3 separate regions of the Homo sapiens genome follow, and all the other regions are linked to region 1. The links come from fine-mapping of genetic effects on gene expression. A gene starts in region 1. Each other region holds a variant in brackets. All regions are shown on one strand. Distances are between the middles of the regions.

What was found.
Region 2: its variant is fine-mapped to the expression of KAT6A in whole blood (TOPMed, PIP above 0.99).
Region 3: its variant is fine-mapped to the expression of KAT6A in whole blood (INTERVAL, PIP 0.93).

The regions. Positions count from the first base shown.
Region 1 is chr8:42,047,166-42,055,346 of GRCh38, forward strand. KAT6A (lysine acetyltransferase 6A) reads right to left here and starts at 4,822. Exons shown (of 17, transcript NM_006766.5): 1 at 4,736-4,822; 2 at 1,213-2,137. The coding sequence starts at 1,812. It overlaps KAT6A-AS1 (KAT6A antisense RNA 1), which reads left to right and starts at 4,585. Exons shown (of 2, transcript NR_136589.1): 1 at 4,585-4,820. RefSeq lists silencers at 3,916-4,385, 4,486-5,115, 5,306-5,465, 7,426-7,720 and enhancers at 4,914-5,435, 5,436-5,956.
Region 2 is chr8:41,953,042-41,961,222 of GRCh38, forward strand. KAT6A (lysine acetyltransferase 6A) reads right to left here. Exons shown (of 17, transcript NM_006766.5): 9 at 2,255-2,370. Among named protein-coding and RNA genes, the nearest start is that of KAT6A-AS1, 95 kb to the right of the region's middle. RefSeq lists an enhancer at 3,947-3,996. The variant T/C (reference allele first, on the strand shown) is at 4,141.
Region 3 is chr8:42,100,308-42,108,488 of GRCh38, forward strand. KAT6A-AS1 (KAT6A antisense RNA 1) reads left to right here. Exons shown (of 2, transcript NR_136589.1): 2 at 3,757-4,680. It also overlaps the pseudogene RPL17P30. Among named protein-coding and RNA genes, the nearest start is that of AP3M2, 49 kb to the right of the region's middle. The variant GACATTAA/G (reference allele first, on the strand shown) is at 4,623.

The DNA of each region.
Region 1 (8,181 bases):
GCAGCAACTTAAAGCATCACTGCTCTCCAAGGAACTATAATTCAGAGCACCTTAAGTAAATTTACAGCTAAGATACTAGGTCAATGTAAAAAACAGGTACTAACAAAATTCTCCTAATCTCCAAATATCTATTTAAGCACCAAAATTTACTGTTTAAGAAGTCATAATTTCAACTATATACAATAACATCCTAAAACACAACAGAGTAAAGTACACATCTGGGCATCAAAACTCCCAACTCTCCAGAACTTTACCTTTCTTTTTGTTTTTAGAACAGGGTCTCAGTTGTCCAGGCTGGAGTGCAGTGGTGACAGCATAGCTCACTGGAGCCTCAGACACCTGTACTCAAGCAATCCTCCCCGACACAGCCTCCCAAGTAGCTAGGACTACAGGCGCGCCCATACCTGGCTAATTTTTCTATTTTTGGTGGACGTGGGGTCTCGCTATATTGCTCAGGCTGGGCTCAAACTCCTAGGCTCAAGACATCCTCCTGTCCCAGCCTCCCAAAGCGCTGGGATTACAGGCATGAACTACTGTTCCAGACCCTCCAGAACTTTTCTAGTTTAGGATACTGTATTCCTGTCCCATGCAACTACAGCTGTCATAAATAGCATTTAGGACTTCATCATATGCAAAGCCATAATACATGACAGAAAGCTATAATACAAACAGCAGAAACAAGAATTGCTAAGTTTGCTTAGTTGCGCCTATGGGTCATGAGAATCTGTCTCATTTCTGTCTAACGAGTAATCTGCAACAAAATGGAAAACAGAAAAATGTTCTCAGAGTCATCTGCTTGTTTCAAATTCAAGTCTCCATGATTTGGCTGCTCATCAACTTCCAGTAGTAAGGTGTTCTAAGAACCTTTAGTTAAAGTTTTAAAGTCTCACGCTGGAGTACTCCTCAAGCAAAATAATAAAAAAAAATTTAAAAAAAAGTTTTAAACTCATATGTCACTTTTTCATTGTAATGTAAATAAGTTCTTTTAGTCAGATTAACATTCTACATTTTTAATCTTAGGCTTCAAATATTTCAAAGTACCAGAACAAATCTATGAAGCTCTCATAGCTACAACTCACCAATAAAAAACCAGAGGTGATCACTCCACAGAAGTCCCCAAACAAAAAACTTGAATATAACTTCCCAGAAATGTGAATTTGTAGCATCCTATATCATCAGCTCTATAAACCCCGAAGCATATGCCATTCTTACCTTATCCTTTTCATGTGGAAGAAGGGACACTGGAGGTAAACAGGAAAGAGACTCACAACTCTCTTTCCCATCCACGTTGGTTGCTTTAGTGTTGAGCCGATAAAGAGGTCCATCTTTAAGGAGTCTGCCGTGGCCAATGGCACGTTTGATAGCCAATCGTAACTGCTGGTGAAAGCCAGAGGCAGCACTGCCTCCGAATAATGCAGACACATCCTTCTGACCTTTCAAAAAACGTTCAATGCTTTTCAAAGTTGAGCCACCAGACTCTGCCAAGCCCTCAACTGCCCGCTTTATCAGTTTATTCCAATCCACATTTTGTTTATTATCCAATTTTCCATGGTTCCGAGGCTTAGGAAGTGCTATTCGCCCAGGATTATCAGGATCTTTATAGGAATTGAGTCCTTTATTTGAGACTTTTAAAATTGTTCCATCTTTAACACTCAACTCCAATTGTTCTAAAACAGTTTTACGATCCAAGCCATGGGATGAAGACACAGCATTGCATATCCTTTCTTCTGAAGGACGCTGTTTCTGCTTTTTCACTTTTTTGATGGCCTCCAAAATCCACTCAGTATAAAGCGGGTTTGCGAGTTTTACCATGGTGAAGGATTCTGTATATCCATAGAGTCGTTATCCCTTATCCTGATGCTGAGTAAGTTTTACACCATGGAAAACAAGATTCTCGGAGGCTGGGAACCAGTTAACCATAGCATATGAGTTTTCTGGCCTAAGTCCTTCCTCCTTTCACAAAACAGAATGCCACCCCAATTGTACTATAGAAACCAAAACAACCTGTTGATTGAAATGTCTTCCAACTTCCCAATGAATTTCTCAATAGCACCACACATGGGTCTCGTCATAAAGTTGTAAGAACTCAAGAATATTTCATTCCCGGCTCCAGAGCAGAAAAATGTGCATCTTATGCCTGAAAAGCAATGAAAATAAGGTCAGTTTTCTACCAAGACCTATTTCGAATGAAAATAAGCATCCTCATCATAAAGCAATCAAACAGCAAGTGTTTACTAGGCACCCTTAAGAATTTCCAAACTTATCTATTAATATTCCAAAACAATCATGTATGTAAACCATTGGGATAAAAAAGAAAAAAAAAGAAAAGAAAAAAAAAAGATGAGTAATTAGGATACAATGAGGAAACACGATGACATGTTCTAAGAATGACCTTTAAGCTACCACTAACCAGAGTGGGTGATGGCTATTCTGTACTCCGCAATCTCTGCTCACCAGTCTAGGAATTTCAACTCTTCCTTGACATCTTTCCCCAAGAAACTAGTCAGCACTTCAACAAGTATCTGGATTAGTAGAAAGAATCCTGCAATGAAAGTAAAAGTGAATCTTTCATCTTTCAAAATTCTAGACATTCAGAGTAGACAAAAACAGTCAATAAGGCAGAAAACGACTGAGAAAATTTTAGTTCTTACATGAAAAGAATGAATACAATATGCACACCCAGTTTATAATTTAAGTACAGTATTACCTTAATCTCTCCTAATGGAAACAAAAATACTATTGAAAATAGCCTAGAGTAAAAGTGCTTACTGAATTTAACAATAATCCACTTTCATTCAAATTTTAAGAATTACATGCTGATAGCTTCTCCTAACCCAAACTAAGATGTTTCTATTCATATGCTGAAGAGAGTCACAACTGTCAAACTGCGTGTAAGTAATTCAGACAGGAAAACTAGAAATGAGGAAGGCCCAGAATCACTGGGGTCAACGCACATACTACATATCAAACGGACGGTACAGAAAAAGAAATACACTGGCTACTTGTAGGACTAAAGAGAAGCCCAAATAATAAAGATATAAATTCAAGATTGCTGTCCTGAAACGAACATTAATAAAACATAAACAGAAATGTACTGTCTCTCTGAATCAAAGTCAGTATCCCTATAAAAGAATCTGGTAGATGCAATCTTGTTTAATCACTAAAGTACTGAATTCTGAATCTAACTCTTTTGCCTCCAAAAATAAGTTTAACTGAAGTGTTTTTTAGAACTTCTGCTCTCATTCTGGAGATCATTTGCATTACAATATAAACAATGCTAGACAAATGGCTCCCACAGCAACTATTCTTGGTAGTGACATTAAAATCAAACGGAAAACTAATACACACTAGGAAAGAGATATTACTATTAACTCTGATAGGAAAGAAAAGAGTGAAGCAAACATTCAAACCTGAGCCAAGATTTGTTTTTAAATCAGCTGCCTAAAAAGAAGCCCCCTGGGAGAATCATGCTTCAATTTGGTGAGGGTCTCAAGAGGATAGAAATCAGAGTATCATTACTCCAAGTAAGCTCATTATACAGATATTAAGTCTAAACTAAATGAGAAGCTACATCCTGAGTTTAACAAGCTGGGAACGAACGTCCTAATTGACTAAGCTTCGCAGGTAAAAGAATGAGTGACAGTCACTCATTGTCTTTCCAGTCGGGATTGTCATCAGTCTCCAGGTCTTCGGAAAGTCAAGCGCCTGCAGCCTCGGATCTTAACTCCCGGAAAGTACACGAGCGGCTAGAGCGAGCGCAACTCGCTTCCGACAGTCCTTCCCGTCCCCATTCCCCACCCCTAAACACGTCTTCGCGCTCTCTTTTCAAAGAGCGAGAAACTTTAAAAACTTGGATCTGCACAGCCCGGCAGCTCGCCGACGGGGCGCTGCACCGTTTCCACGCGATGGAAACAGACCCCGAGCACAAGTTAACAATGAAATCACGTGAAGGAGTTCAGAGCGGTGCATAGCCCCGGCCCAGCTCCGCACCCTAAGCTCTGGGGGCCGGCTCGAGGGCGGCGCGGGTTGCTGGGAGCCTGACAGTCGCGCACCGGGCCAAGCCGCGAGGTTGACAGGCGCCCGGCCTCCCCTCGGCGGCTGGGCTGACAGCCCGGCAGACACAACACCACACGTGCTGCGCCTCGCACCACAACACCCGCCGGCCTGTCAGCCCCGCTCGCCGCCTCAGCCCCGCTCGGATCCCCGCGCCCCCGGCCGGAGCCAAAGCCGGAGCCGGAACCCGAGCCCGAGCCCGAACCCGAGCGCCCGCGAGCGCGGGGAGAAGCGGCCCGGCCCGGCACAGCCGGCACGCGCGCGGCGGGCGGGTGGGCGCGCCCCGAGGGAGAGCGGGCTCGCCGGCTCCGCCAGCCCGAGGCTCCGCGGCCTGGGCCGCTCGCCGCCCGCCCACCCGCCGGCTCCCCCAGGGCGGGCCCGGCCGGCGGGATCGGGGGCGCGGGGCCCGCGAGCGCGGGGCCGGGCGGCGGCGCGCGGGCCGCGGGCCGGGGCAGCCGGGCGCCGAACAAGCGAGCAAGCGAGCGAGCGAGCGGGCGGGCGCGAGGGGGCGGCCACGGCGCCCCAGCCCGAGGCCTGGCGCAGAGCAGCGGGAGGCGGCGCAGGCCGCGGCGGGGCCTGCAGCGGCCCGCCGACCCCGCGAGGCAGCGGAGTGGGCCCTGGAGCGGCTCGGCCTCGGGCTGGGCGGCCGGGGGCGGCCGGGAACGGCCCCTCGGCTACTTACCGGGAGGAAGGACAGCCGAGATCCCGGGGCCCCGGGCCGGACCGCGGAGATGCCCCAAACTGACACGGCCGCCATCTTGGAGACAGTGAGCTCCAGCCGGGGGGAGGGGAGGCAAGGCGGCGGAACAGCCGCGGGGGGAGGGGAGCGTCGCGAGGGAACGGCGGCCTGGGGGAGGGAGCTGGAAGAGCCTGGGCGGGCGGCGAGGGGAGGCGGAGGCCCGGCAGCGCGGGTGGGGGGCGGCCGAGAGCGGGAAGAGCTGGGCCGAGAGCCGGGAAAGGCCGGAGGGCGGGGCGGGGCAGCAGGGAAGAGCCGGCCGGCGGGGTCACGTGGGGCCGGTACAAAAGGCCAAAGCCAGGGGAGGAGGAGGACTTGGTGGGGCTGGAGGCTGGGGAGCGGGGGTTCCTCCTCTCCCGTCTCACGCGTTTAAGTCAGACGGCGACCCGGGAGAGGAGGAGCTGGTGCACCCCATGCCACCGCTGGGGAAACTGAGGGCAGGAGTCTGGGTGGGGTGGCTTCAGTGTGGCACGGAAATCCGGCAGCCACGCAGGATGGGAACTCTCGGCGGCGTCTGTTTACAGTTAGTGAGCCCTCCCTCCCCACTCATTTGCCTGCACAGCGACTTTCCGGAGCCCGAGGGCGGGGCCTGGGGGGCGGAGAGGAGGCGGCTTCCCGTCCTCACCCCTGGCAGCTCGCCTCAGCCCCCGACGGCTCTCCTGTGTCGGTGGGAAGAGTTGGGGAGAGGGTGGAACCAGAAGCACCCGTCTTAACCCCTTTCAGCAGTGACTTCATTTCTTCCCTCCCCCAGCAGCTGAGAGGGTTCTTGGAGCTCACTAGAGCCATTTTATGGGAGACTCCACAGACCTGGGTCGTGTGACTTGGACAAGGTCACACAGCTAGTATGTGGCGCGCACCTGAGCCTGGGACTGAGATTTGTCTTATTCCAAAGCCGGTCTTCCCTTCTTGCCCTGTGCGGAACTCTTGTCCATACTTAGGGCGTTGGAACCACGAGCAGGCGGTTCTTCATGGCCTGCCTGTCCACTACTGGCTGTATGGACGTTTCTTTGTCTTGCCTTTCATCTACTTTAAACTCTTTGATGCAGAGACTGAGTCATACTTTTTTTTTTTTTTTTGAGACAGTGTCGCTCTGTTGCCCAGGCTGGAGTGCAAGTGGTGCGATCTTGGCTCACTGCAACCTCCGTCTCCTGGGTTCAAGCGATTCTCCTACCTCATCCTCCTGAGTAGCTGGGACTGCAGGCGCCCGCCACCACGCCTGGCTTATTTTTGTATTTTTAGTAGAGACGGGGTGTCACTATGTTGGCCAGGCCGCTGGTCTCGAACTCCTGACTTCAAGTGATCCGCCCTCTTCGGCCTCCCAAAGTGCTGGGATTACAGGCCTGAGACACTGCACCTGGCCAAGTCATGCATTTTTTTTTTTTCTGCATTCACTAGAAAGACAGTAGACATGAAAAAGACACTAAATGTTTAATCGTTGACATGGACGTGTATCCTGCTGCCTGACCTTTATCTGCCCTGTCCCCAACCCCATACGACACACCCCGCCTAGACTGTCGCCCGCAATACCTCATTTTATCTCAGCTTTAGCTTTTAAGGGCCTCCCTCTCACCCACTGCCTTAACTTCCATGCTGACTTCCTTTTCTGAACTTCTGTAGTAGTATCATTTGCTCTAGTCATTTTGCACTTACATGTGATATATATATATATATATATATATTCCGAATACATTCACTGGTAAATGCTCTCCTATAATGACTCTGCATCTCCAGCACCTAGAATAATGTTGTACAAGTACTGTAGTAGGCGGTTTAAAATAAAAAAATGTTGCTCGTGAATGAACAATTTTTTAAGCCGTTAAGAAAGCCGTTTGTGGCGGGGCGCTGCTGTAGCCCAGCTACTCGGGAGGCCTGCTTGAGCCCGGGAGTTCCAGGCTGCAGTGAACTATGATCGCCACTACACTCCAGCCTGAGAGACACAGCAAGAGGGAACCCAAACTTTTCTATCTATCCCGTCTCCACTCTAATCCATAGCCCTACCCTCCATACGGTAGACTCTGGACCATTCAGTAAGAATAACGTAACTTTTCAGATCATGGTCCAGCCTAATCAATATCCTGACACTGACAGAAACAGAAGTGTAATGTAGTGAGGTTGACTGAGTTGCCATTCATCGCCTACTTCCAAGCCCCATCTCCAAAGCAGTAGAGAAATTTGGAATACATGATAATCCAATAGAAAGGATCTCTTTCATCCTAGATGAATCAGATAGACACATTCTCAGGTAAAATGGTCCCTGTTTGTAATGAAATCACCTCCAGGAAAAAAAAAAAAAAAAAAAAAAAAAAAAATATATATATATATATATATATGTATTTTCTTTTAGTAGAATAGGCAGATTTTTATTTCCCAAAGAGGGCAGATAAAGTCATATTAATGCAAAGACAATGAGTTCTTCATGTGAGACTAGAGTGTGTGGCCTTCAGAAGAAAAATAATACAGAGATGAGTTGTGTTTACTTTTGGATAATTTGGAAGAAAACTAGCCACAGCCATCCTGTGAAAAGACCAAACTGGGGATTAAACAGTAGCAAGAATTTAAAACAATTTATAACAACAAAGCACAGTTGAGCTTTTCACACAGCTTCCATAAAGAGTCTCTGCTTTACATTTGCATAACTAAATGGCACATTCAGGAGGTCTTCTCAAAATAAAAATCTTGCAACAAAGACGGATTAAAGTCCTCATCATTTGCAAGTTAAAAAGCAATCTGCACTCTGAAAGGATAGTTTTTCTTAGCTCAAACTTTACTCACGATTCAGCCCTGTGGAGCTGGCAACTAAAGGTTATTTCCCCCTTGCATATTTTGCTCTAGGAATCCCTGCCTTTTCACTTGTACTTGGTACTTGTGTCTTATACAGAGTCCATGCCAGCCTGAAATTGGAAGTTTGCTCTGTCCTGGTTTCAACAGGAAACATTTTTAGTCCATTTACATTTAATATAATTACTGGTATATGTGGATGTATGCCTACCATCTTACCATTTATTTTGGATCACCTATTTCACATTCCTTGTTCTCTGCTTTTTGCCTTCTTTTGAATTAATTAAAATATTTTAACTATATCATTAACCCCCTCTATTAATTTTTAAATTATACATTACTAGTTTTAGAGATTACAACATTGCTTTTTGACTTATGATCTTATACAAAATAATTACTTTTACCACTTCCCCGGGAATGCTAAGACATTAAAATACTGTATCTCCACCTACCCATCTCCCTTTTGTGTTTATTGTCGTCAAGGATTTTAATTGTGTGTGTATTTTAAGCCACACAAGAATTTATACTTATTGTTCTGTACAATAAGTACTCATTTAGATTAACCTCCATATTTATCCTTATATTGCTCTTCATTCCAATATGCATTTCTGTGC
Region 2 (8,181 bases), 94 kb before region 1:
CCTATTATACTTTTTTTGGTTATTTTTTGATGGCATTATTTATTCTTTCACTGATAACTAGTCTCCTCACACCTGTTTCTAATGAAAATCTCATCAGAACAAAAGCTACATTTTCAATAAATCCTTTAAATATCTATCTTAAAAGAAAACAGTTTATGATTCCATTCTCATCATTCTCTTGAACAAAAGTAAATGCTAGCCCTCTATTTCCATTCCTGAATCTATTTCCTCTCCCCACCTTGAGTAGACAAGGGGCCTGTGGTTTCCATCTATCTGTACTATAGTCTCCGGAACAGTTGACAGACATGTGGAAAAGCTTTCTTTTCTAAGTTGAGTGCTCTTGTGATTTGGGCAGCTTGCAAAGAGCTCACTTAAAAAATGATCATAACAACTTATTTTAAACCTGATGAAAAAATTAATTCCTTGGCATATTTATTTTCTTTTCTTTTGAGATGGAGTTTCGCTCCTGTTGCCCAGGCGAGAGTGCAATGGCGCGATCTCAGTTCACTGCAACCTCCGCCTCCCAGGTTCAAGCGATTCTCCTACCTCAGCCTCCTGAGTAGCTGGGATTACAGGCACCCACCACCACGCCTGGCTAATTTTTATATTTTTAGTAGAGACAGGGTTTCGCCATGTTGGCCAGGCTGGTCTTGAACTCCTGACCTCAGGCGATCTGCCTATCTCGGCCTCCCAAAGTGCTGGGATTACAGGCGTGTCCTTGGCGTATTTCTTCTCGGTCATAAAAGATCTTGGCTATTCAGAATTCCTGAGGAATGAGTTAACTTGAACGCTGAGTTCTGTAGGTAGTTGAGGAAGTTCCTGCCTTCCTTTAACATATATACATATACAATACATACATGTATAATATATATGTATAATATGGAAATGCAAATACAATGTAACCTTATCTTAAAGTCACATTAATTGTTGTCAGCTCATGAAACAGTGTGCTTCCTTAAAGATACACCACAGTGTTTGGGGCTAACTGATCCCACAGTAAATGGCCCTCAATTGCTGTGTTTCATGAGCTTGTGTGTTAGTTTCCTGGGGTTTTGCTTTTTCTTCTGTTTTTGTTAGCTGTCACTTTGAGGTCAGTGTCTGAAATGGCATTCTTACCCCTATTTTTCTACTTCGACTGTAGACTAGAGAAGCAAGTTATTATATGGAAAGAAAAAGTAAAAAGATAAATAAGTTTTACTGGATGGCCCTTTTAACAACTATACTGGCCTATTCCTAGTTTCTTGGCAACAACCCATGTTAAGGCACTCAACATATTGTAAGGTACTAAATAAATTTTGCTAATATTTTGGCCAGGCAATGTTACTACATGGGTGAAAACTTACATGATGAGAATATTCTGAACATGTATTTAACCCACAAAGCACCATGATGTATTATTTCTTGTAACACCCTACTAAATGGGAAACTGAGGCATAAGTAGTTTATAGATTAGAGAGCATTAATGTCACTACAATTAACTAGTATTTAATTTTTTGATCTCATTTCATCTTTTAATTTTAACCATAAAGAAAAAATATAATAACTGACATTATTGAGCACTTACCATTTTCTAAGTGATTTACATGTTGTAGCTCATTTAATGTCCTCAATATCCCCACGAAGTAAGTACTATTACTATCTCTGCTTTACAGATGAGGAAACTGAGGCACAGAGCAGTTGGGCAGCTTTTAAGGTTACACAACTTACCAATTTCAGAGCTGAGTCATGAAACCACTTTAGCTCCACCAAGCTGGTGAGTGATCAATGTTTATTAATATATCTGGAAGCCCAAACTATTTATATATAATTTTTACACCAATTGTCCAATTATTTCTGGGAAAACAAACCATTTATTAAGTTTGTCAAATTATAAATATTTATTTACATCAAAGACTAATCAACTGAAACTTTATATTAATTTATATATGAGTTCTTCTCTTTTTCAAAATTCTTAGTGATAGGAGTGAAGACAAATTTCTCTTAAAAAAAAAATAAAAAAGCATTCCCCTTTTATTGTGACCATGCATTCGGGTTTCTCATTTTAAACATCAGCGTCTGAGAGGTTACAGAAGAGAACATCTAAAGCAAACTGGGATGAAGTGGCTGCCAAAGCCGCTGCTATTATGGACATTTAAAAGCCCCCAGTTTCCTCAAATGTAAAGGATAAGGTGGACTCAAACATCTTCAAGATCCCTTCCAGTTCCAGACTTCTATGGATCTCAAAACAGAAGGTCAAGGGTCTCTCAAAACATACCTTGAGTATTCTTGAGGATATGGGGAGGAGTACCAGGTGTGAATTTCATACTTCCCAAACTCAATGACAGAGGGACAGCGGACTTGTGGATCAGGGGGACCAGTCACTCCAACTTTCTGTGCAGTCAAGAAATACATTCAAAAGTTAGCTAAATTAGACACACTGAGATAACAAAGAAAGTTCTGAATCTAAATGTTGTCTTCTCAGGACTCCAAAGGAGTAAAACAAAAACAAAAGCCAGAACAAGCTAACATATTTTGAAATAAGTTATATTATTCCTTAAACAGAGCACCCAGATGAAAAATAAAAATGCTAATAAATCTCTTAGAACCAAATGCATTGGGTGTTGCTGCATTTCTACATTTAATAACAGTAAAAATATTTTCCTCAATTAAACTCACTCTTAATGACTTAATATTAAAGAGAAACTGCTGATACTTGGTGATATAAGATAAAGAATAATTTACAAGTGAGGGAGGGGGACACTGCATATTTGCTGAAGTCCTACCACACTGCCTCCGCTGACAACAATGGAGATGCCCTACTGAATATGTAAGCACACAAAGGATGATTTTTTAGTTTGGGAAAGTAGATATTTAAGAGAAATACAAAAAGAATCTGACAAAACAAGTATCAAGAGAGTCTTCATTTCATACTATGCCTAAAATTCCCTTCATTAGTAGCTCTGCATAGATTTAACCAAAGAAAGACACTCTGTTATATACAGACCTTCTCTTTTTTCTGCCTTCTCTTTACAATGAAAACAATCTCTATACCCCTCATCCCTGCAATAGTCTGAACTACATTATCTAAACAGAGAATAATTTTTAAAGCCTTTATGACTTCCCTGACTTTCCAGATCAGAAATTCAAACATAAGTACGTAGCTCAAGAAAATAAAGGCTGTTAAGGGTCTTAACATGTTAACTCAAGGGCAACATGACTTGCTCTGCACCCAGTCTAGCAACAGATGCATATACACACTCATGTCCATGTGTGTGAGTGCAGATATATCATGGATGCTCTACAAATACTAACTGACAAGAAAAAGACAAAAGAGTTTAGCCTAACCAAAAACAAGCATTAATAACTCTTCCCCAAAAGGATAACTGAAATTATCCTTCAATTTTATGCTTTAAAGACCACTAAGAGACTAGTAAAAATCCCTTGTTGGAGCATGCAGACACACATACATATTTTATAACAAAACTAAAAGAAATTTTTATTCATTGGTTTTATATAAATCCGTTTAAAGAAGCCTCTTCACCATAACTCATTAGAGACCTTCTGGTCTTTCTAACCATTCTCTTTTATAAAAGGCCAAGGGACTTATCTCAGGTTTCATACTGGAATGTAGCCAAATGAAACCTCAAGCTCTTCCTTAGACACCTCAAAACAAAAGACAAAGATCTGTTTGTGGGATGAATTGTGTTATAACACCACCAAGTACTGGGGCTCCTCCAAATACAAAACCAAAAACAATGAAGAATACATAATACAGGGTTAAAATAAGATTTCTTTCATTTCTCAAAACCCAAACAGAACTTTGTAAAAAGATTTTTTAAAGGCTGTTTTTAAACTACATTCTAGAATCAACTACTCTAACTCATAAAGTACTATCTTTTCATCTATCTTCACAACTCAAAGTAATAACAACAGTATAGGAAACTTTCAAAATAACTAAATACCAGAAACCAGATCTAACTTCCTGAGGCAAGGATCAGATAGAAAGCCCAAAAGCTGAAGTCATGCACCTGCTGCGGCACTGTCTGTTGTTTGAGGGTCTTCCCATCAGCTGCCCGCTGCTCTTCTAGGCGGATGCCCGATGTGAAAGTGGATATCCAGTTCCAGTACAGCTGTTTGCACATCACCACAACTGCGCACGTC[T/C]GTCCAGAATGGGACCTGTGGTAGGTTCCCCTCTGCCCACACCCGCCTTTAACCTTTGCACCGTGAAACGTTCCTGCACATGCGCTCATGTGTGAGCCCGCCTCCACTCCCAGCTCCCCTGAGCAAGCCTCCACAGCAAGGGTGTTTCCTTTTACGAAGATTTAGAAATCAGCAAGGCTCTCTACACAGGGAGGAAGAAATGGCTACACAGAAACCACTCATTCCAGTCCTAGCCAAAATCAAACTGTCATATCTGAACTACAAGGTTACCTTTGCTAGGTCTTTTTATTTTAACATTTCAACCAAAGTACGTTTTCGCTAAACATGTGACTTTCCAAAGCAGCAGGTGTCTAATATAATCAAGGGCACAAAATATATTTAAATGTTTAACTCAAATTCTGCCACTTCATGTCCTCCTAATTTAAATATGCCAAATTATTTAAAAGAAGACGTATGTTCCAGGCTAGAATTGACCTTTTAATCTAAGATAACTAACAGGGGGTAGCAAGGGGGTGGATTAAATACACTAATAATTGGGCTAAACCAAAAGAAAACTTTATGCCTACTGCTAGATAATAAAGCTTTTATTACCACCAGTTTATATGAAAAGAGTATTACTCTTCTACAAAAACTTAAGCTTCAATTAAATGACTCATCTAATTCCAGTTTGTAACATAAAAAAGGCCATTCTTGCAGTATCCCCAACTCTGGATCTGGTAGGGACACCAAAATTGTGTAAATAATTTAACAATTTCTGTAAACACAGAGCTGCTGCCTTCCCCCATCTGTCCACTGGAGCGCTCTCACTTGCCCTTCCCTCTCCATTCCCCAAGGGGGTGCAATGTTTTGAGGAGAGAGGGAGGTACCCCTTTATTATCAGTGTGAGGCTGGGAATGTGGGGAGAAGAGATGGCTTTCTGGCATTTGAACATTTTCCCACAGAAACACTACAGTAAGTAATTCCATTCATTAGGGATTAAAAGTTACATGATGAAAGAGGTATGAAAGAATGAATTCACATGCTCCACAACAGAGAGAGCATGAATTTAAGGACTAGAGAAAATCATGTTCGTGGAGCACCTATTGTGCTAGACTCTGACCTGAGCCTTATGTCGTTACCTCCTTTGGTCCCCACAATCCATCCTTCAAAGTAGAAAACAATATACCCACTCTGCAGATGAAAAAATAAGCCTCAGATAAGCCTCAGGTTAAGAGGCAAAAGCACCGGGCAGGAACAGCGAGTGAAGCATAAAGACAGAAAAGAATGACATGGGTTGAGATGTGACGGAAGTAACGACAGCCCTCAACTAATTCCTCCCTAAATTCCCAAAGTTTATGGGTAAGTTTTTAAAAACGGGAACTTGGTTTTCCAAAGAAATGAAGCTACAAGTCCACAAACTTTTAACCCAAAACCCTTGGACTGGAGTAGAATGTGTTTTGGAATTCTGAATTTTTCTGATTTTAGAAAAGTATTAGTACATATATGTGTATAGTACATGCATGTGTATAGCCCTAGTAGGATTTGGAGCAGCACTCCATAATCAGACACACTAAAATTTCTTTAGCAAAGCATATGAATATTCACATTAACTGGCATAAGTAAGGAATACAAATAGTCTCACATCAGCTCAGATCATGTTTTTGTCAGTAACTCAGTTCAGGTCAAGTGGGACTTTATTGCAAAATGAGTTAGAAAAGGCCGGGCGTGGTGGCTCACGCCTGTAATCCCAGCACTCTGGGAGGCTGAGGTGGGCGGATCACGAGGTCAGGAGATCGAGACCATCCTGGCTAACAAGGTGAAACCCCATCTCTACTAAAAATACAAAAAATTAGCTGAGGAGCTTGGTGGCGGGCACCTGTAGTCCCAGCTACTCAGAGGCTGAGGCAGGAGAATGGGGTGAACCCAGGAGGCAGAGCTTGCAATGAGCCCAGATCGCGCCACTGCACTCCAGCCTGGGTGACAGAGCCAGACTGTCTCGAAAAAAAAAAAAAAAAAAAAAGTTGGAAAAGTTTCTTTCCATTCTCCAAAGAAGATATACAGATGGCCAATAAGCTCATGAAAAGATGCTCAACATCACTAATAATTAGGAAAATGTAAATCAAACCACAATCAGATACTACTTCACACCCATTAGGATGGTTATTATTTTTAAATGCAAAACACCAGAAAATAACAGATGTTGGTGAAGATGTGGAAAAATCAGAACCCTTGTCCCATTGCTGGCGGGAATACAAAATGGCACAGCTGCTGTGGAAAACAGTATGATGGTTCCTCAAAAAAGTAAACAGAATTACCACATAATCTAGCAATTCCACTGCTGATTATAGACCCCACAGAACTGAAAGCAGTTCTTTGTATATGGGTATCTATTTGCATACTCATGTTCATAGCAGCACTATTTACAACCCAAGTATCCACTGACAGATGAATGGATAAACCAAATGTGGTACATACGTACAATGGAATATTCTCCAGCCTTAAAAAGGAAGGCAATGGTTGGGCGCTGGTGGCTCACGCCTGTAATCCCAGCACTCTGGGAGGCCAAGGTGGGCAGATCATGAGGTCAAGAGATTGAGACCATCCTGGCCAACGTGGTGAAACCCCGTCTCTACTAAAAATACAATAATTAGCTGGGTGTATGGCACATGCCTGTAGTCCCAGCTACTCGGGAGGCTGAGGCAGAAGAAACACTTGAACCCGGGAGGCAGAGGTTGCAGTGAGCCAAGATCGCGCAACTGCACTCCAGCCTGGGCAACAGTGCAAGACTCTGTCTTTAAAGAAAAAAAAAAAAAATACAAGGAAGGCAATTCTGACACAGGCTAAAATACATATGAACCTTGGGGACATTATGCTAAGTGAAACAGCCAGACACAAAAGGACAAATATTGTATAATTCTACTTATGGTACCTAGAGTAGACAAATTAATAAAGGCAGAAGACAGAATGATGCTTACCAGGGGTGGGGGTAGGGGTGGGGGGTTGGGAGTTGTTTAATGGGTACAGAGTTCCAGTTTTGCAAGATAAAAAAGTTCTGGAAATAGATGATGGTGATGATTGCACAACAAGGTGAATGTCTTTAATGCCACTGAATTGTACACTTAAAAATGGTCTGGTTAGGCCGGGCGCAGTGGCTCATGCCTGTAATCCCAGCACTTTGGGAGGCCAAGGCCGGCGGATCACGATCGAGACCATCCTGGCTAGCAAGGTGAAACCCCGTCTCTACTAAAAATACAAAGAATGGCGAGAACCCGGGAGGCGGAGCTTGCAGTGAGCCAAGATGACGCCGCTGTACTCCAGCCTGGGTGACAGAGTAAGACTCCGTCTCAAAAAAAAAAAAAAAAAAAAGTCTGGTTAAAATAACTTTTACATTATGTATATTTTACCACAATTATTTTTTTTCAAATTTTCAGGACTCCTTAAATTTCAGGATTCTGGATATTGTGACCTATCTTTCCCTTTTCCTAAGCCTTTTTGCTCTACACTCAGACTTCTCTTTATCCATCTCCTTTGCTAATTCTTTTACCATTAAATATTGACAAAATCTAGAATTCTGTCCTCGGCCATCTTACCTTTTCCATCCGGAGGACCCATAATCCAGTGCTTCCATCAGCTTTCCACTCTCCCCACACCCTCCTTTCTCTCTACGCAGCTTAGATTCTAAGGTCTTTTTCCCTGTAATTCCACCCTTTGCATAGACCTTTAACTCTCTAGTTTCTCTTCTAATTTCACAACAAAATCCTAACCCCTGTTAAATTCAACTCTTCACATAATCGAAGTTATTACCTTAATGTGAATATGGGTGGAGAAAAACAGAGAATCATGCTACCCAGTCTCACATTATACACCTACCCACAAACCTCAAGCAGGTCCTGATGCTTCCTACTCCATTCACTCTCCCGTTCTGAAAGACAACTGCACCCTTTCTCCTCTGCTCAAGCCTCCAACACTGCTTACTCCACCTTCACTTTCAGCCAATGCTTTTGCTTCCTACTGCACTAAACTGGACAAAATCAAAAGAAAACTTCTGCAATTTTTCCCACC
Region 3 (8,181 bases), 53 kb after region 1:
CTGAGACATGAGAATCACTTGAACCGGGAGGCGGAGGTTGCAGTGAACAGAGATTGTGCCACTGCATTCCAGCCTGCACAACAGAGCAAGACACTGTCTCAAAAAAAAAAAATACAGAAAATTAGCTGGGCATGGTGGCACATGCCTGTGAGGAGGCTGAGATGGGAGAATCACCTGAGCCCAGGAAGTGGAGGCTGCGGTGAGTCGTGATTGCATCACTGCATTCTAGCCTGGGTGACAGTGAAAACCCCGTCAAAAAAAAAAAAAAGGTATTATTATGCATCAAGCAGCATTTGCATGCTTTACATATATGGATTACTTGTCCCTATGACATAGAGACTATTATCAATTGCCAACTTATAGATGAAGTTAATCAACTTCCCCAGGACACAGAGCCAGCGTTCTAACCCAAACAGCTGCTCTTGACCAGTGTCCTTGCTCTCCCCGCCTGCCCAGTGCTGCCTCCAGCAAGCCTTCATGCCCACTCCAGGCCTTCGTGCATTCTTGTTTGTCTGTTTGTTTATATTTGAAAATGTCAGGAATTTCTTTCCTGACACATCGTTAAAGGTCCCTTGCATCTTCTTGCTTTCTGGGTATCTTTGCTTTGTGCTATCTTAAAAACCTTGGAGCAAGCGTATTACACATAATTCTACATACAGATTGACAGATGCCTCCATGAGTTAAAGGAGAGAGACAAAAAAATAAACAAGAGCTTAACACTTCTCATGGTTCGTTAGCACAAAATTACATTTTGTGCATTTTTTCAATGGCGAGATCATAGGGGATCAGTTCCTGCAGTGGCATGTGCGTCAGGCTTCAATCACAGATTAGAAACTGCTCTGGGTATCTTAAACAGAAAAGGAATTTAATCCAAGGAATTAGATGCTTACAGAAATGTTTGCAGTTGGAAAAGCAGGCTTTAGGCTGGACCTCTAGGAATGAGTCTCAGAATGACAGGGCCCAAGTGACCCTCTGCTTTTCCCGTAAGTGGCCTAAGTTAATCTCTGAAAATGGTGCATTACTCACTTGACCCAGAAAACTCCACAAGATTGCACAAATCCAATCTTTGTGTTCACTTCAGGAATACCAGTGAAACTGCCCAAGCCACCAAGGCTTTACCTATACCAAAAGCTACCCAGTATCTGAAAGATGCCGCAATATAGAAGCAATGTGTGCCATGCTGCCTTACCATGGTGGAGTTGACAGCAGTGCCCAGGCCAGACCGTGGGGGTAATGCAGGGTCAGTGGCCCAAAAAGAGTGATGAATTATTGCTGTCCCAAGATGCAGAGAGTAATGCTGACCTTAAGAATTTGTATGTAGATTCTCTAGTCATTGAGCACATGAAGGCGAACAAAGCCCCCAAGATGCCTATCAAACTGAGAGAGCTCACGGTCAGATGAGCCTCTTGACATTCTGAGATGACCCTTCCTGAAAAAGAACAAATTGTTCCTAAACTGGAAGAGGAGGTAGCACAGAAGAAAAAGATATGCCAAAAGAAACCAAAGAAACAAAAAGTTATGGCTCAGGAATAAATCCAGTAACATAAATGCAAATAAAAGTAAACTGCCTGGCCGGGCACGGTGGCTTACACCTGTAATCCCAGCACTTTGGGAGGCCAAGGTGAGAGGATTACCTGAGGTCAGGAGTTCGAGACCAGCCTGACCAACATGGTGACCCGTCTCTACTAAAAATACAGAATTAGCTGGGCGTGGTGGCACATGCCTGTAATCCCAGCTACTTGGGAGGCTGAGGCAGGAGAATTGCTTGAACCCGGGAGGCGGGGGTTGCAGTGAGCCGAGATCACGCCATTGCACTCCAGCCTGGGCAACAAGAGTGAAACTCCATCTCAAAAAAAAAGGAAACCACCTGGCTACTTCATCATTACTGGAAACTTTTGGAATCAGGACACCACCATGCAAAACGCAGGCTCTAGGACAGACATGGTTGACATTTGGGACAGGATAATTCTTTGTAGAGGGGGCTGTCCTGTGCATTATAGGATGTCTCACAACATCACTGGCTTCTACCCACTAGATACAGATAGCACACCCTCAGTCACAACAATAAGAAATGTCTCCAGGCCAGGCACTGCGGCTCATGCCTGTAATCCCAGCAATTTGGGAGGCTGAAGCCGGAGGATCACTTGAGCCCAGGAATTCAAAACCAGCCTAGGCAACATAGGGAGACTCCATCTCTACAAAAAAGTTTTAAAAGTTAGCCAGGCATGGTGGCACGCACCTGTAGTCCTAGCTGCTCAGGAGGCTAAGACGGGGAGGATTGCTTGAGCTGGGGAGTTTGAGGTTGCAGTGAGCTATGATTGTACCACTGCACTCCAGCCTGGGTGACAGAGGAAGACCCTATCTCAAAAAAAGAAAGAAATGTGTCCAGACTTTGCTAAATGCCCCCACTGGGAGCAAAATAGCCCCTGGTGGAGGATCTCTTGTATAGAGCATCATAAGCTTAGCCTGTCGGGAGTCCCGGGGGGCTGCTACCATATTGCTTTCACAGATTTTGAAGATCAGGAACACACTGCCTTGGCTGTGTCCTGTAGATCAGCAACACCACTGCAACAGTCAGCTCCAAAGCCGTGCTGCACCTGCTGCAATTCACACCCACGAAACCAATGCCTGCTGCCTTTCTTCCCACTTGACTCAGTTGCATATCCACTTCTGAAAAAAGAGGCATCTGATTGGTGGAAACTGAATCCCATCCAGACCCCCAGCTGCAAGGGAGTCTGGGAAGAATCATGTTTTAGCTTTCCTGTTTTTGCAGTGCAAGAAGGTACCCTAGAAGAGAGGTTGAAATAAGTATTGAGAGAACCAATCTACCGTATCGGCTATGGCATGTCAACTTTTTGTTCTTGTCAAATGAAGCGGGTAACGTGGGAATGTTAATCTATTTGAATGGAAGTGTTTTGAAAAGAAAGGTGGGCGGGGTAGAACAGCCTACCAGTGTCTATCATCAGGAACAAGATACTTTCTAGCATATCGTATTTTATACTCACTGTCTTAATCAGTCGTCTAAACATTAGCAATTCTACCCTGTGATTTCATTTTACATGTGTAAATGTCTTGTCTCCCTAAAAATTTGCAAGTTCTTTAAGGTTAGGACTACTCCCTTCTTTTATTATTATTATTATTATTATTTTAAGACGGAGTCTCACTCTGTCACCCACACTAGAGTGCAGTGGTACAATATTGGCTCACTGCAACCTCCGCCTCCCAGGTTCAAGTGATTCTCCTGCCTTAGCCTCCTGAGTAGCTGGGATTACAGGCACCTGCCACCATGCCAGCCTAATTTTTTGTATTTTTTTTTTAGTAGAGATGGGGTTTCACCATGTTGGCCAGGCTGGTCTCGAACTCCTGACCTCTAGCAATTCACCCACCTCGGCCTCCAAAAGTGCTGGGATTACAGGCTTGAGCCACTGGGCCCGGCACTCCCTTAATTCTTGAGCATAGTTATAGGCATATTGCCGATATTCTGTAAGAATTATTAAACATTCTTTAAGTTGCACTAACCATCAGAAACAGAGTCAGGAATACTTCTAGCCACCACTCTTTAAACAGGATTTGAGAGTCCCTTTCCTATCTGTTAGGATCATTTTTAACTCTCATAACTTGGAATCTTTATGGGATCTTTAAAATACCAGTTGTTGTCATAGAATCTGAATTGAGAAATATGTTGGGGGTTAAGAGTTTAAGAATTTTTAAAAATACATTTATCTTAAATATGTATTGCTATTTCTCCATTTCCAGTCACCATGGAGCAACCAGGGCCGCATTTACCCTTCCACCTGAAACAACAGCAACCACAAAAAACAGACATAATATACAAAACATTGGTTTTCAAGATGCTGGACATCAGGTAATGAAGGACAGTGACTCCTGTGAGATAGGAGGGAAATGAGCTGACCCTACAATTGCCTCAGCCTGTGAGGGTTCCCAGGCCAGGGCACAGGCAAGAGAGACTGAGGCAGAGCCCAGGGGATTCCCTGGGTCAGGGAGACGGAGCTGAGAATGGAGAAAGGCCACAGGGACTAAAGTTCTTGGGGCAAAGTCCCAAAGAAGAGAGAGCTGCGTGGAGAGAGGGAGAGAGCTCAGAGATCTGCAGAGGGTCTTCCTGAGCCTTCACTGAGTGCTGAGCAGTGCGGATGTGCCAGGGAACGATCAGACGCTGGGGACAGAACCACCCAACAGAATTCAAGATAAGAGTGCTCAGTGCTGACACGGGACCAGGACCAGGGTCTGTTTCCACCAGCCAGAGCAGAAGCCTGAAGAGTCCCAGACACCAGGGAGGCTTCCCAGAAGAAACTAGCCTCAGCAGTGAGGAATAATTAGCCTAGACTGAGCACAGCGCCAGAATCCCCCACCAAATCATGACAGCAACCCGAAGGGATTGAACTGTTTCCAACAAACTTAACTGCATCGCAGAACAAAGCACACAATTATTTATAGGAACACAAACATATCCAGCACCCAGCGAAGTAAAATTCATGGTGTCTGACATCCAATAAAAAATAACCAGTCATGCAAAGAAGGAAAATATGACCCATAGTAAGGAGATAAATACATCAATCAAAACTGACATAGAACTGACACAGAAGCCAGGATTAGCAGACAAG[GACATTAA/G]AACAGTTATTATAACTGTGTTCCATATGTTCAAAAAGTCAAGGAGAGACATATTTGCCTTTTTGCTTTTTTTCTCTGCTGAATAATTCTGTCCAAAAACTAAGATCACGGAGGCTCAAGTCGATCTGCCTGGTTCAATTTCCAGCTCTGAGACTTACAGGCTCTCATACAGTGTAGCCGGGGCTGGGGCTGGACACAGTGTCTGAGCTCTGGCAGGGTGAGGAGGTGCAGGTATTAGGAGACAGAGCACACACCCAAGCGTGGCCTGATTCAAAAGTAAATATGCATATTCATGGCTGGGCGCCGTGGCTCACGCCTGTAATCCCAACACTTTGGGAGGACGAGGCGGGTGGATCACTTGAGGTCAGGAGTTTGAGACCAGCCTGACCAATGTAGCGAAACCCCATCTCTATGTGGTTTGTAAAAATACAAAATTTAGCCAGGCGTGGTAGCGAATGCCTGTAATCCCAGCTACTTGGGAGGCTGAGGCAGGAGAATCGCTTGAACGCGGGAGGCGGAGGTTGCTGTGAGCCAAGGTCACACCACTGCACTCCAGCCTGAACAATAAGAGCAAAAATCCTTCTCAAAAATAAAAAAATACAAAAGTAAATATACATATTCAGAAAAATAGGAGCAGCTTTCTAGGGATCAGAAAAGGGAGATACAAAATGAGAAGGGAGAAATTAGACTGAATTAGAGATATTGGGCTTTGCATGGTGGCTCACCCTTATAATCCCAGTGCTTTGGGATGCTGAAGTGGGAGAATTCCTTGAGCCTAGGAGTTTGAGACCAGTTTGGGCAACATAGTGAGACCCGGTGTCTACAAAAAATGTAAAAAATTAGTTGGATGTGGTGGCGTGTGCCTGTAGTCCCCGCTACTTGGGAGGCTAAGGTGGAAGGATCGCTTGAGCCCAGGAGGTTGAGGCTGCAATGAGCTGAGCTCATACTACTGTACTCCAGCCTGGGCATCAGAGTGAGACCCTGTCTTAAGAAAAAAAATTAGAGATATTGGTGTGAGCTCATGGTTTTCAGTATATACAGATGGATAATAAAATAAATATAGATGTTGATGTGTGCACACGCACACACAGAGACACACACATTCCCCGGCTCTGTCCACCAAGCAGATCTAGGGGCAGCCTCACCGTCACCCTGACATGGAGACACTTCTGATTAGAGGTCAAAGAAGAGATGTGTCCAAAGAGGAGAAACCTCAGATCCAGTTATAACTTGGTAGTTTCGGGCAGCTTTTCTTCAAAGAATGTTTTTAATCTTTATAAGTCATAAAAACAAATCAAGTATGTCAATAAACACTACATTTCTACATTCGAAAAATTATTTTTATATACAGTAGCTTATTTATTGCATAGACAAATCATAGAAAAGTAATTACAGGCTTTGGGTTAGTCTTGGGATCCTATTTCAGCTCTAACATTCACTCACTTTGTAACTCTTGGGAACCACGTGATCTCTCTGAGCCTCAGTTTCCTCAAACATAAAACAAATATATTTACCTTCATAAGGTTTTATATTTTTAATTAGATTGTACAGATCCCCACCATGCATGGCATAAAGTAAATGCTCAGCAAATGATAGTTATCAGCACATTTGCACATGGTGTAAATTGGGCAGGTTTTTTTTGTTGTTGTTGCTTTTTTTTTTTCTTTTTTGAGATGGAGTCTGGCTCTGTCACCCAGGCTGGAGTGCAGTGGCACAATCTTGGCTCACTGCAACCTCCACCTCCCAGGTTCAAGCAATTCTCCTGCCTCAGCCTCCTGAGTAGCTGGGATTACAGGCACCTGCCACCATGCCTGGCTTTTTTTTTTTTTTTTTTTTTTTGTATTTTTAGTAGAGATGGGGTTTCACCATGTTGACCATGCTGGTCTCTAACTCCTGACCTCAAGTGATCCACCCTCCTCGGCCTCTAAAGTGCTGGGAATATAGGCATGAGCCACCACACCAGGCCAAATTGGGCAGTTTTTTCTGATTTTAGTTTAACGGGAGAAAAAAGACAAAGGTTGGCAAAGACGTCAGAGCAGAACATATGAATTCAGTTAACTATTTATTTATTTATATTGAGATGAAGTCTCACTCTGTCGCCCAGGCTGGAGTGCAGTGGCTTGATCTCAGCTCACTGCAACCTCCACCTCCTGGGTTCAAGCCATGCTCCTGCCTCAGCCTCCTGAGTAGCTGGGACTACAGGCACCCACCACCATCCTCCCAAAGTGCTGGGATTACAAGTGTGAGCCACCATGCCCAGCCACAAATTATTTATAAATAGAATATGCATGGAGGGAGGAAGACCTTCCAGAGGCAGGGAGAACAGGAGCAAATCCCCGGCGTGGGCAGTAGCAGGAGATATACAGGCTATACTGGCTGGGGCTGATGGTGGCAGAGGTGCAAGGAGGCACGAAGGAAGTGAGGATCCAGAGGATCTGTGCCAGGTTATGTGGGCTAAACTAATACAGGCTGAACTAAGCCAAAGAACTTTGGCCCGGCCAGGCACGATGGCTAACACCTGTAATCCCAGCACTTTGGGAGGCTGAGGCAGATGGATTGCTTGAGTCCAGGAGTTTGAGACCAGCCTGGACAACATGGCAAAAGCCTGTCTCTACGAAATTTTTTTTTTTTAAAAGCCATGCACCTGTAGTCCCAGCTACTCGGGAGGCTGAGGCAGGAGGATCACTTGAGTCCCGGAGGTCAAGACTGCAGTGAGCCAAGATCACATCACTGTACTCCAGCCCGGGCAACAGAGTGAAGCCCTATCTCAAGAAAACAAAACAAAACAAAACGAAACTTTAGCCATTATTGTGTTGCATGGACTCTCGTATTCATGATTTATAGCCCACTAGACCACACTTTGTCTAGATATCTCTTCATAGAGAGCAGCCTCTGATTTAGGGCAGTTATTCATTAGATTGTGCTGTGTCCAAGTCAGGAGCCCCCAGCTGCCCTTGGTTTCACGAATGAACACGACTTTTTGTTGTTGCTTGATGAGGCGTATTTAAGAGTGGGGAGCTATTGCTAACATGAGTAGAAGTTCTGTACATGTAAACTCCCTGGGGTGTTTCCCCAAGATTCACCGGCTGGGAAGATCCTGATGGGCAGCCTCTCCATAGGGGGACACATGCACATCTCAAGCACTCAAGAGGAATTCAGGCTCAGGGGACGCAACGCATGTCAAGAAAAGTATATGGTTCCAAAAAGGCTAAAGGAACTGGAAGTATTTAAAGATGGAATGATTTCAGGCAATAAACTCCCTCCCACCCAAACAACTAAGCAAGTAAAGGAATAATGTAAAGAGGGTGCTTGCACACCTCTTGCCCAAAATCTCAGAGATTCAAGATTTTGACATTTCTCCTTTTTTTTTTTTTTTTTTTTGAGACAGAGTCTTGCTCTATTGCTCAGGCTGGAGTGTAGTGGCACGATCTTGGCTCACTTCAGCCTCTGCCTCCCAGGTTAAAGTGATTCTCCTGCTTCAGCCTCCCAAGTAGCTGGGACTACAGGCACATTCCACCACACCCGGCTAATTTTAGTATTTTTAGTAGAGAT